Linked DNA regions of Homo sapiens: region 2 is linked to region 1. A link means that fine-mapping ties the variant in region 1 to the expression of a gene that starts in the linked region. Tissue or cell type: whole blood. Region 1 holds a variant in brackets; the other region holds the start of a gene. All regions are shown on one strand. Distances are between the middles of the regions.

Evidence for each region. PIP is the estimated chance that this variant, and not a neighbour inherited with it, causes the effect.
Region 2: FHIT starts here. The variant in region 1 is fine-mapped to the expression of FHIT in whole blood (TOPMed, PIP 0.92).

What each region holds. Positions count from the first base shown.
Region 1 is chr3:60,277,722-60,283,264 of GRCh38, reverse strand. All of the region lies in intron 5 of FHIT (fragile histidine triad diadenosine triphosphatase), which reads left to right. LOC107986015 (a long non-coding RNA gene) reads left to right here. Exons shown (of 2, transcript XR_007095935.1): 2 at 1-5,543. Among named protein-coding and RNA genes, the nearest start is that of MIR548BB, 340 kb to the left of the region's middle. The variant A/C (reference allele first, on the strand shown) is at 2,950.
Region 2 is chr3:61,249,528-61,254,527 of GRCh38, reverse strand. It overlaps FHIT (fragile histidine triad diadenosine triphosphatase), which reads left to right and starts at 3,076. Exons shown (of 10, transcript NM_002012.4): 1 at 3,076-3,227. LOC124909387 (a long non-coding RNA gene) reads right to left here and starts at 2,936. Exons shown (of 2, transcript XR_007095939.1): 1 at 2,901-2,936. RefSeq lists enhancers at 2,979-3,273, 3,338-3,397, 3,528-3,657, 3,798-3,927, 4,208-4,487.

The DNA of each region.
Region 1 (5,543 bases):
AAACATGTATGTGTGTGTGTATGTGTGTGTGTGTATATATCCCTGTTTTTCGCTCTCCTAAATCAGTTCTTTCCAGATTTCCAGTGAAAGGAATTTTAGCTTGCTTATGAATGCCATCTAATTAGTTTATTTCTTTGTTACTGGAGAACATGAACAGAGGCCGCTATTTACTCAAGTGTGCACTCTCCAAAGGTCTTTCTTCATTCAGGATGACTTGATCCTGAGGGTTCTGCCATCTGTTACCTCTAAACAGCTAGCCAGCTGCTCTCTAGTCTTTCCAGTTTAAGCTCCATTCTTGGAACTGCACTTATTTCAGTCTGGTTGTTGTATTCACCTTGGGGCTCTGTATTCCTGAAACCATGGACTGCTGATATCTTAGCAGCCATAAGAATCTTCCTACTTGTTTGAAATAGGGGTTTCTGGATCCAGAGCCTAGAGATCATCCTAGGTATGTTTTCTAAGATGTACTTTTTAAAATAAAATTAAAATACTTTATTTTTTAGAACAGCTTTAGATTTTCAGAAAAATTGTGCAGATAGTTGAGAGACTTACCATAACATTTTCCTTCCGTGTCGCCACTATTCCCCCATCCCCGCCCCACCACCAAGTGTCTCCTACTATTAATACCTTGCATTAGTGTGGCACATTTATTACTGAAGTTAATGAACCAATATTGACACATTTATATTAACTGAAGTTCATACTTTACTTTAAAGTTCACTCTTGGCCTTCTGTGGTTCTATGGAGTTTTACAGATGCATATTGTCGTGTATCCACCATTACAGTTTCGTATAGAATAGTCTACATTGCCCTAAGAAACTATATTGGATCCCTGGTAACTAGTAATCCCTTTATTGCCTCTATAGTTTTCCCTTTTCCATAATGTCATATGGCAGTATGTCTGTAAGGTGCCTCCACACCTTTTTATGGCATAAGAGTTCTTTTAAAGAAAAAATTGTAGACTAGTATTCTGTCGTATGGATTTGCCACAGTTTGTTTATACATTCTCGTGTTGTGAAAGACAGATTATTATGAATAAAGTTTCTATAAGCTTCCCTAAGCAGACTTTTGTGTGAACATTAGTTTTCAACTCAGTTGAGTAAATGCTTAGGAACTTGGTTACTGCATTCTGTGGTGAAACTATGTTTAGATTTATAAGAAACTGTAAAACTGTAGTCCAAAGTGGCTATACCATTTTACCATTATTTCCACCAACAATGCATGAACGTTCCCATCACTCCACTTTCTTGCCAATATTTGGTATTATCAGTCTTATGGATTTAGCTATCCTAATAGGTATATACTGGTATGTCATTGTTTTAATTTGTAATCCCCTAATGACATATGATGTTAATATTTTCTACCATTCTGTGCCTTGTCCTTTCATTCTCTTAACAGTATTTTTTGTAGAGCAAAAGTTTTAAATTTTAATACAATTCAATTTAAAATTTTTTTTGTAGATAATTTTTTGTTGTTATATCTATAAACAAATTGCCAAACTCAAATCTAGTATTTTTCCCTGTGTTATCTTTCAGAGGATTTACATTTTGCATTTTTCATTTTACATTTAGTTCTGTGATGCGTTTTGAGTTTATTTTTGTAAAAGGTGTAAGGTCTGTGTGTAGATCCCCCCTTTTTTTTTTTTTGGCATATGGATGTCCAGTTATTCTAGCACTATTTGTTGTCTATTGAATTGCCTTTGCTCCTCTGTCCAGGGCAAGTTGTTTATGTTTGTATTGGTCTATTTCTGGATTTCCTCTTCTGTTCTTTTGATTCACTTACCTATTCTGTCACCAGTACCATGCTGTCTTGATCGCTGTAGCTTTGTAGCAAGTCTTAAAGTTGAGTAGTATCACTCCTTCAACTTTGTTCTTCAATATTTTATTGGCTATTCTGGATCTTGAGCCCTTCTCTATGAACTTTACAATCAGCTTTTTGATATTCACAGAATAACTTTCTGGGATTTTGACTGAAACTGCGTTGAATGTATAATCAAGTTGGGAAGAACCGATAACAGTATCAAGTCTTCCTATCCATGAACACAGAATATCTATTCGTTTATTTAGATTTTATTTCTTTCATCAGAATTTTTTATATTTCCTTACAGATCCTGTACATATATTGTTAGATTTTTACATCTATGTGTTTTATTTTTTACGCTAATATAAGTGATATTGTGCTTCTAATTTCAATTTCCATTTGTTATTTTCTGGCATATTGGAAAGAAATATTTTATCCTGTTTTTTTCAGGATAAAAGAAAAATTTTATCCTGAAACATTGCTGCAGTTGCTTATTTGTTCTAGAGAATGTTTTGTCAATTTTTTAGGATTTTTCTACATAGTCAGCCATATCATGAGAGCAAAAACAGTTTTATTTTCTTCTTCCCAATCGTTATATCTTTTTCTTAATATTCTTTCCTTTTCTTGTCTTACTTTTACCTAGGTCTTCCATTATGCTGTTGAATAGGAGTATTAACAGGGGAAAATCTTGCCTTGTTCTCAGTAGCTTGCTATATCAAATTATTACAGACTGGTAGCTTCAAACAATAGAAATTTCTTCCCTGACAGTTCTGAAAGCCAGAAGTCTAAAATCTAGGTGTCAGCAGGGCCGTACTCCCACAGAAGCTGTGGAGGGAAATCCATTCCTTGACAGCTTCTGGTAGCTCCATATATTCTTTGGGTTGTGGGTGTGGGTGTGACAGTGATCTCTGTGTTCCTGGTCACACTGGCTTCTTGATGAGTCTGTGTTATTTCACCTTTGCCTCTACCTTATAAGGATATTTATGATTGATAGCATTAAGGCCCACTCAGATAACTTAGGGTAATCTTCTCACCTTAAAATTCTTAATTTAGTTACAGCTACAAAGTCCTTTCTTTCAAAGAAGGTAACATTTTCATGTTTTAAAAGTTAAGACCTGATATCTTTGGGAGATCATTAGTCAGCCTACT[A/C]TACTACACTGATCTTAAAGCATCCAGTTTCTCTCCATTGAGTATGATGTCATGTTAGCTGTAGGTTTTTTTGTAGATTTTTTGGTATCGAGTTGACGAAGTTTCATCTATTCCTAGTTTGCTGAGAGTTTCTACTCATAAATGAGTGTGGGATTTTGTCAGTGCTTTTCTGTATCTGTTGCTATTATATGATTTTTCTTCTCTGGCCAGTTGATACGCTAAGTTACGTTTGTTGAGTTTTTTTTGTTGTTTGGTTTTCTTCTATTGTTTTTTTTTTTTTTTTTGAGACAGAGTCTCGTTCTGTCACCCACGCTGGAGTGCGGTGGCACGATCTCCGCTCACTGCAAGCTCCGCCTCCCAGGTTCACGCCATTCTCCTGCCTCAGCCTCCCAAGTAGCTGAGACTAGAAGTGCCTGCCACCATACCTGGCTAATTTTTTTGTATTTTTAGTAGAGACGGGGTTTCACTGTGTTAGTCAGGATGGTCTTGATCTCCTGACCTCCTGATCTGCCCGTCTCGGCCTCCCAAAGTGCTAGGAATGTTTGTTGAGTTTTTGAACGTTCCACCAGCTGTGTACCTGAAATAAATCCTAGTTGTAGTATATAATAACTTTTATACATTATTAGATTTGATTTGCTAAGATTTTGTTGACGCTTTTTATATCATGTTCACGAGCGATATTAATTTCTAGTTTTTCTTTCTTTTAATGGGGTTTGCACGTGTATTCTGATTTTGCTATAGAGTAATGCTGGTATAACATAATGACTTAGGAAGTGTTCCCTCTGCTTTACCTATCTAAAGAAGGTTGTAGAGAATTGCTATCATTTTGTGCTTAAATATTTGATAGAATTCATCAGTTAAATTGTCTGGACCCAATTTATTATTTATTTTTAGAAAGTTAATTATTGATTCAATGTTTTAAAAAGATACAGATATAGATATAACCTGAATAGACCTATTCAGATTATCTATTTCTCTTTTTGTGAGTTTTGGTAGTTTGTTTCTTTTAAGGAATTGCCTCTGTTTATCTAAGTTATCAAATTTGAGATCACAGAGTTGTTCATCATATTTCTTTATCATCTTTTTAATATCCGTGAGATCAGTAGTGATGACCCCTCTTTCATTTCTAATGTTAGTAATCTGTATTGTTGCTCTTTTTTTCCTGGTTAGCCTGACTAGAGGTTTAGCAATTTTATTGATCTTTTGAAAATAATTAGCTTTTGGTTTTGTTAATTTTTCTCTGATTGATTTCCTATTTTCAATGTAATTGATTTCTGCTCTAATTTCTATTCTGTTTTTCTTCTGATTGCTTTAGGTTTAAATTGTTTTTCTTTCTGTGGGTTTCTAACAGAAGTTTAGATTATTGATTTTAGATCTTTCTTCTTTTTTGATATATGTGTTCAGTTCTTTAAATTTCCTGCAAAGCATTGTTTTCCTTGCATTCCACAAATTTTGCTAAGCTCTATTTTCATTTTTATTTAGTTTAAAATAGTTTAAAGTTTATCTTTAAGAAATTTCTTTTTGCATGCCTTATTTTTGTTGTTGAAAGCTGGAAATAATACCTCGAGTGATGGGAACTAAGAATTTTTTTTTTTGTTATGAGGTTTTATGTTAATCTAGCTTAGAGCTGGACTGTGTTTAATGCTTGCTGTAGCTTTAAGTTCCAGATGCTTCTGTGTGCTCGTATTTTTTGTCTTCCCTGTTGTCTTTGGGCTTTCCTAAGAGCTCCTTATTCAATAGAGTCTGTGTGTTTCACCTCTCAGTTGTAATCACCAAAGACCTCTTCACGTGGTGATGAGGTCTCAGGAAGGATAATTGTTGTATATTATGATTACATCTCAGTTTTCTTAGTGAGCCTGAGTTTCTAGGCTGCGATCTTCTGAAATGTTCTGAGCCCTTTTTTCGTCCCCTGACATTAGACAGGAAGGCTAAAAGAGTCTGGAGGGGACTAATTGCCCTTCTCCCAAGTCAGATAGAACTCTGGTAAAATAGCTTCCCTGAAAGGACGTGTCTTTCTTACAGAGAACAATCTGGGAAACTTCCAAAATGGTTACTTTTTCTCTTCCCTGAGATTTTTCTCCAGACTTCCCCATGAGAACATGATAGGGTTCTTGGACATAAAACTCAGAAAAGTATAGTCTCCCCTAAGACTAGGCTGCAAGAGTTTTTAACTCTCAAGCTAGTCTGCACTGAGCCTCCAGCAATTTGTCAAAATTATCATACACGTGTTCGTATCAGTTCCTAGGTCCTTCTGTTTTTGCTTTAGGTAATCTGATCTTATGATTCTTTGTGTTTACATGTTTCTCCAAATTTGGGGATACTAGTTTGCTTTGGACCTCAGTTCTCTGCTGAATCTAAAAAAGTCATTAATTTCCAGTTGGTTCATCTTTTTTCCTTGTCGTAAATATTTTTCTTGTTGCAAATTGCAGTGAAGCAGTGTCATTGGCTGGGATAATATCCGAGATTTGTCATCTCATGCCGGGAAAATTAAGGACAGGGACACACACACACAAGGAGTGAGTTTGGGAGCTGAGGATTAATAGGCAAAAGAAAGAGAAAGGAGAACAGCTTTCTCTCTTGAGAGAGAAAAGGGT
Region 2 (5,000 bases), 970 kb before region 1:
CAAAGTTCTTACCTTCATGGAGTTTACCTTTTGTTTGAAGGAGACAGATGATAAACAAAAGGACAAATAAATGTGGGTATAATTTCAAGTAAAGATATTTGCTATGAAGAAGTACTATAATGGCACAATCCACAGAAGTCTTTCACAAAATTGTCTTCTGGGTCTAAAAGTCACCCAGATCTTGATGCTACCTTCTTAAAATATCCACACCCTTTACTCATGTTTCAAGACCATAAAATGAAAAACACAATGTTTTTAACACGTTTCTTTAAATGTCCTTTTCCCCTTTTCTTAATCTTCTTTCTCCTTGCACTACCATGCCCCAAAGCTCCCAAAGCACCCTCCTTAAATGCCCAAAGAGTTCCTATTCCCCAGTGTAAATGAGGCTTCTGCTATTGTTTGGTTTGTATGTCTTAGTGAGGATTTAGAAAGTACAATCTATCTTAATTGTTGATGAGTGATAGAAGGTGGTAGGCTGCTTGGGCTTTTTGTATTTATCTACTTAGTTTCTGACTTATTCTTATTCTGTTAGTTTCAGTGACATGAGCTTGTGGTAAACCAAAGCCACCTGTAGCAGATATTATTGGTGCCCCGCCAGTATGCTATATTCCCTTACTATTTCAGCGTATACCAATGTGACTCTTAATTCTTCTATCTCTGGCTTTCTGTGGCCACTGAGGCAACTCTGTCTACTCTTGGAGCATTGCAGACAAGCCAGGGTCTTAATAATCCCTGAAAGCTGCCCCCAATCATTGACTGACGGTAGTTGGTGTTTAAACAACCCAGTTATCTTGTCCTCTTGGTGGAATCACTCAGTCTAAGGTACATGTTCCATATTGTTTCCCAGAGATTTCTAGGAGGATTAAGTTCTGGGTGCCTCTAGCGGTAATGTGCTAGATAAGGCATCTTTTTGGTCTTCTCTTCCCTATTTCACTTTCTTAGTCTCTTACTGGTGTTTCCTGCGATAACCTCCTAAATAAAATACTTGCTCTTGAATACCTGTCTCCAGATCTGCTTCTGGGAGAACCCATACTAAGGTGGTTATTAATTCAGTCAAGTTGCAGATCAGACAGTAACCTCCCACTGATTGTCTTGGCACTTGAAGGTCCTGAATCCAATGCAAGTTCTATGTCTTCATGCTCTTTGTGAATGTATCTGTTGCTCAAGGTCGTGGGTGACCTTGAGCCCAGCAGTCAGCATTATCCACAGCTGAAGTAATACCTATGTGCTCATATTAGGCTATCTGACAACAGTGCAATAATCATTAGACACCACTGTTTAGACCCTGAGTATGTTCATGACATTTGCCTTTTGACTGCTAAGTAGAAGATGTAATGATTATAGGCTGATGCTTTCTCAGGAGGAGGAAAGTTATTGAGCTTTACAGTTTCAAATGCTTCTGATTTTCTTCCACGTTTAGTCTGGCTGCTGACACATGTGTTGAAATCTCTCATGTCGATCAGCTTGAGAATAGCTGGGACTGCTGAGCTAAGTCTGTGCTCATAAAAGCAACAAAGAATTGTATTACAGGAAATGACCCCAAATTGACAGAAGATTAGGCTAGGAAGCCTGAACAGGTGTTTTAATCTCTATGCACAAAATCAGTCTGTACATATATTGCTCACATTCCTGCTGTTTTAACTATATTTTTTTTTTCAATTTCACTTTGTTATTCACAATTTGATAATATTTTATGTGGCCATGGTGTCTGTGTGATGAACTATAATCCAATGTGACATTCTCTGAGAGTCAAGCTTCCAAGGACATCAGATTTTCACACCAGGACACTTTGTAGGACACCTTGCTACTCTCCATGGGATTCAAATATTAGAAATAATGAGAGATCTAAGACTTGATGTAATTGCCTGCATGTAATGAATCAGGCCAAATAAAAAAGTGAGAGACAGAGAAAGGAAATGGTGCTAAGGAAAATGGGGACCTATCTTAGTGTTTGTCTGAGAGAAAACTGCTCTTTGTTTTTCCCGATGTAATGGCAAGAGTCTGCAGCCAGGAATCTAGTCCTTGCTTAGGAGCTGCATGACCTTGTGAAAATTACGTAGGTGTTCTGCAATTTGTAATTGCATTTATTGTAAAATTAATTTTACTTTTCATACGTCACTAGACAGAGCATTTTGAGGTTAGGAATTGGGTCTGAATCAATGATTTCTCCAGCACCCACATGGCATTTGGCACAGAATACATCAATAATGATTTTGGATTAAACAGGGGAACAAGCACAAGGAACCATGGTGGTCAGAAACGGGTTGATCTGCACCAGAGAAAGGGAGACTAGGGGAGAAAGGTCACTCTAGATTTCGTTCAATTATTGAAAATACGGTGTATTTACTATGTGCTGGGCACTTTTCTAGGTGCTAGAAAGACTACAGTGACCAAAACAAAAATCCACATCTGCAGGGATCTTGCATTCTAGTGAGAAAGTAAGATGGTAAAAAAGATAAATACGTAAATTTTATACAATGCTTCGTAACGACAAATGCTAAGGAGAAAAACAGCACAGAAAAGACAGAAAGGAAAAGAGAAGGGGCGCATGTGGTGCAATTTTGTTAGGATGCCAGGGAGGGCTGAGCGTAGTCGTAAATGACCACATTATTTGATGGATCAAGCCAGGGACTGCAAGTCTGTGTTTCTGAGAGACACATAAAGAAAAGAAGGCTTAAGGAATCCAGAAAGATCCAGAGTGGGGAAATGAAACGAAAAGAAATCCAGCCAGTGGGAAGTCGTGAAGGGATAGTTAAACGCGTTTTGGGAGGAAAGAAAAAAGCAAAAGTGCGGTACAGCCTTTCGTTACACGTGAAAAGAATCATGTTTCTTTTTCTAGTTAGAAAAAGCCAAAGATTGTGCGATTTATGCCCCAAACCCCCTTGTAAGGGGATTCTCACCTCAACTTGTCTTCTGTGGTCAGTGTTTCCCGCCCCTGAATCAGGGTTACTGTCACTATGGCTTTCAATTGGCCCGGCGTAGGCGCATGCTCTGCGCGTATTGGCCTCCGCTCCTGTCCCCAGACAAGCGGCCATCTTGGGTCCCGCCCCTACCGTGGGGTCTTCTGGGAATTGCAGTCCCCGCTCTGCTCTGTCCGGTCACAGGACTTTTTGCCCTCTGTTCCCGGGTCCCTCAGGCGGCCACCCAGTGGGCACACTCCCAGGCGGCGCTCCGGCCCCGCGCTCCCTCCCTCTGCCTTTCATTCCCAGCTGTCAACATCCTGGAAGGTAGGGGCGGGGAGGCAAGCCCAAGTGGAATACTGTTTCTGGGGCGCGGGTCTGGGTTTCCACGCGCGTCAGGTCATCACCCCGGAGCCCAGTGGGGCCGGCGCCGCTCACGGGGCGGTGGGCTTCTGTCCCGAGTACTCTTCCGCCCCACGAGGGTCTCAGGGTGGGGACTCGGGCCCCCCAATTCCCAAGCACCGACCCTAGCCCTAACCCGTTCCTCCTCCACCGTGTTTATACATTGGGGAAACTGAGGCACGGGGCCACGCCAGCGGGTCCGGGGACGCCACAGCTCTTGGCTCTGGGGGTGTAGTCGGCACCCGCCGTTTTGGGATGGTTCGTCAGTTTCATAGACAAGTAGCGAAAATCCGTCCCAACAGGTCTGTGTTAAACACGCAGCTCTGGATTCCCCTAAGGGGTTGCTGAACACGTGCCCAGGACAGGAGCAAACCGGAGTATAGAGAAGGCAGCATTTTGGGAGATAATTTTACATTACTACTTCAAAAACAGGCAAAGAGGCATCGAATTTATTGTTGTGGGAGAACTCATCGGTACTTGGTCGGACTTTCTTACACTTATTTTATGGTTGTTGTTTTTATTTTTAGCGTCAAAGGGGGGAATTTTAAAGGTATATCCAAGTTGGTGGTGGTGGGGGGTAAGGAGGCAGGTTAGTGGAACTTGAGATGCATCTGCAGATTTCTCTGTAGGCTCACATTCTGCCCTCGCTGTGTTACCTTGGAACAGCCACTCACAGCGCTTATCTGGGAAACAAGGAGCTCAATGCTCCCAGGTCAAGTGGCCAAAGGATGTTGCCTGAAGCCGAAATCTAAATTGAGGTTATGCTTGTGAAAGTTTACCACTTGCAGATTTACTGCTATTATTATTCTGGTCTCTCAGAAATGTGCTGGGACCAATAGAAAATACTCACAGTGGTTGTTTTAGTAAGGTTCTGACCTGGGCCGGGCCCAGACTACCAAGGGTGGTCCCTACTCGCACCTGATGTTAAGCCGGATCTACCTGAACTCTCCCTCCTTGGCTTCAGCCTGCGGCCTGAGGCCTTGGCCGCGGAGGCTTCTGGGAGTTGCAGTCCCGCCTCTTGTTTCTCGTCGGGCAGGTACTCCACCTCGTGGCGTGCCATTTTGCACGGCGAGATGTCTCCTGGGAGACGAAGTCTCGCTTCTAGCCGTTCTGTAGAGCAGCCGCTTGACTCGGAACTACAACTCCCATGTGGACCTGCGTTCATGGCTGCCGGCCTGTGTCCACCTGCTGCAACCTGGACTAGAAATATTTAGTAAAGAAAGAAGTCTAGGGTTTGTGTGTGTGTGTGTGTGTGTGTGTGTGTGTGTGTGTGTGTGTGTGTGTGTGTGTGTTGTTATTGATTGCATATGCTGTTCTAAGTGTTAGATATGGGATTGTTGTATACGGTGTTCCAAGTATTAACGTACATGCTTCCAAAACCACTAACACTTGACCATTTAGAACCTGTTCACATGATCTCTTTTTAATACTACATTTCCCATTTGTATATGAGAAAAAACTTGAGAAGATAGCCCATGATTACACAGCTAGCAATATAATATATATTCAATAAAATATATGTGTTATAATTTAATCCTCTTAAAAGCTATATGAGAGTGAGAACCATTTTTATATCAACTTTACAGATTAGAAAACTAAGGCTAGGAAAGTTAAGTAACTTGTTCAAGTTAAAACACTGGTGAATAAAAGGACTGAGACTGTAAGCCCTTCTGCTTAACAGTCTCTGCTTAGAGAAAG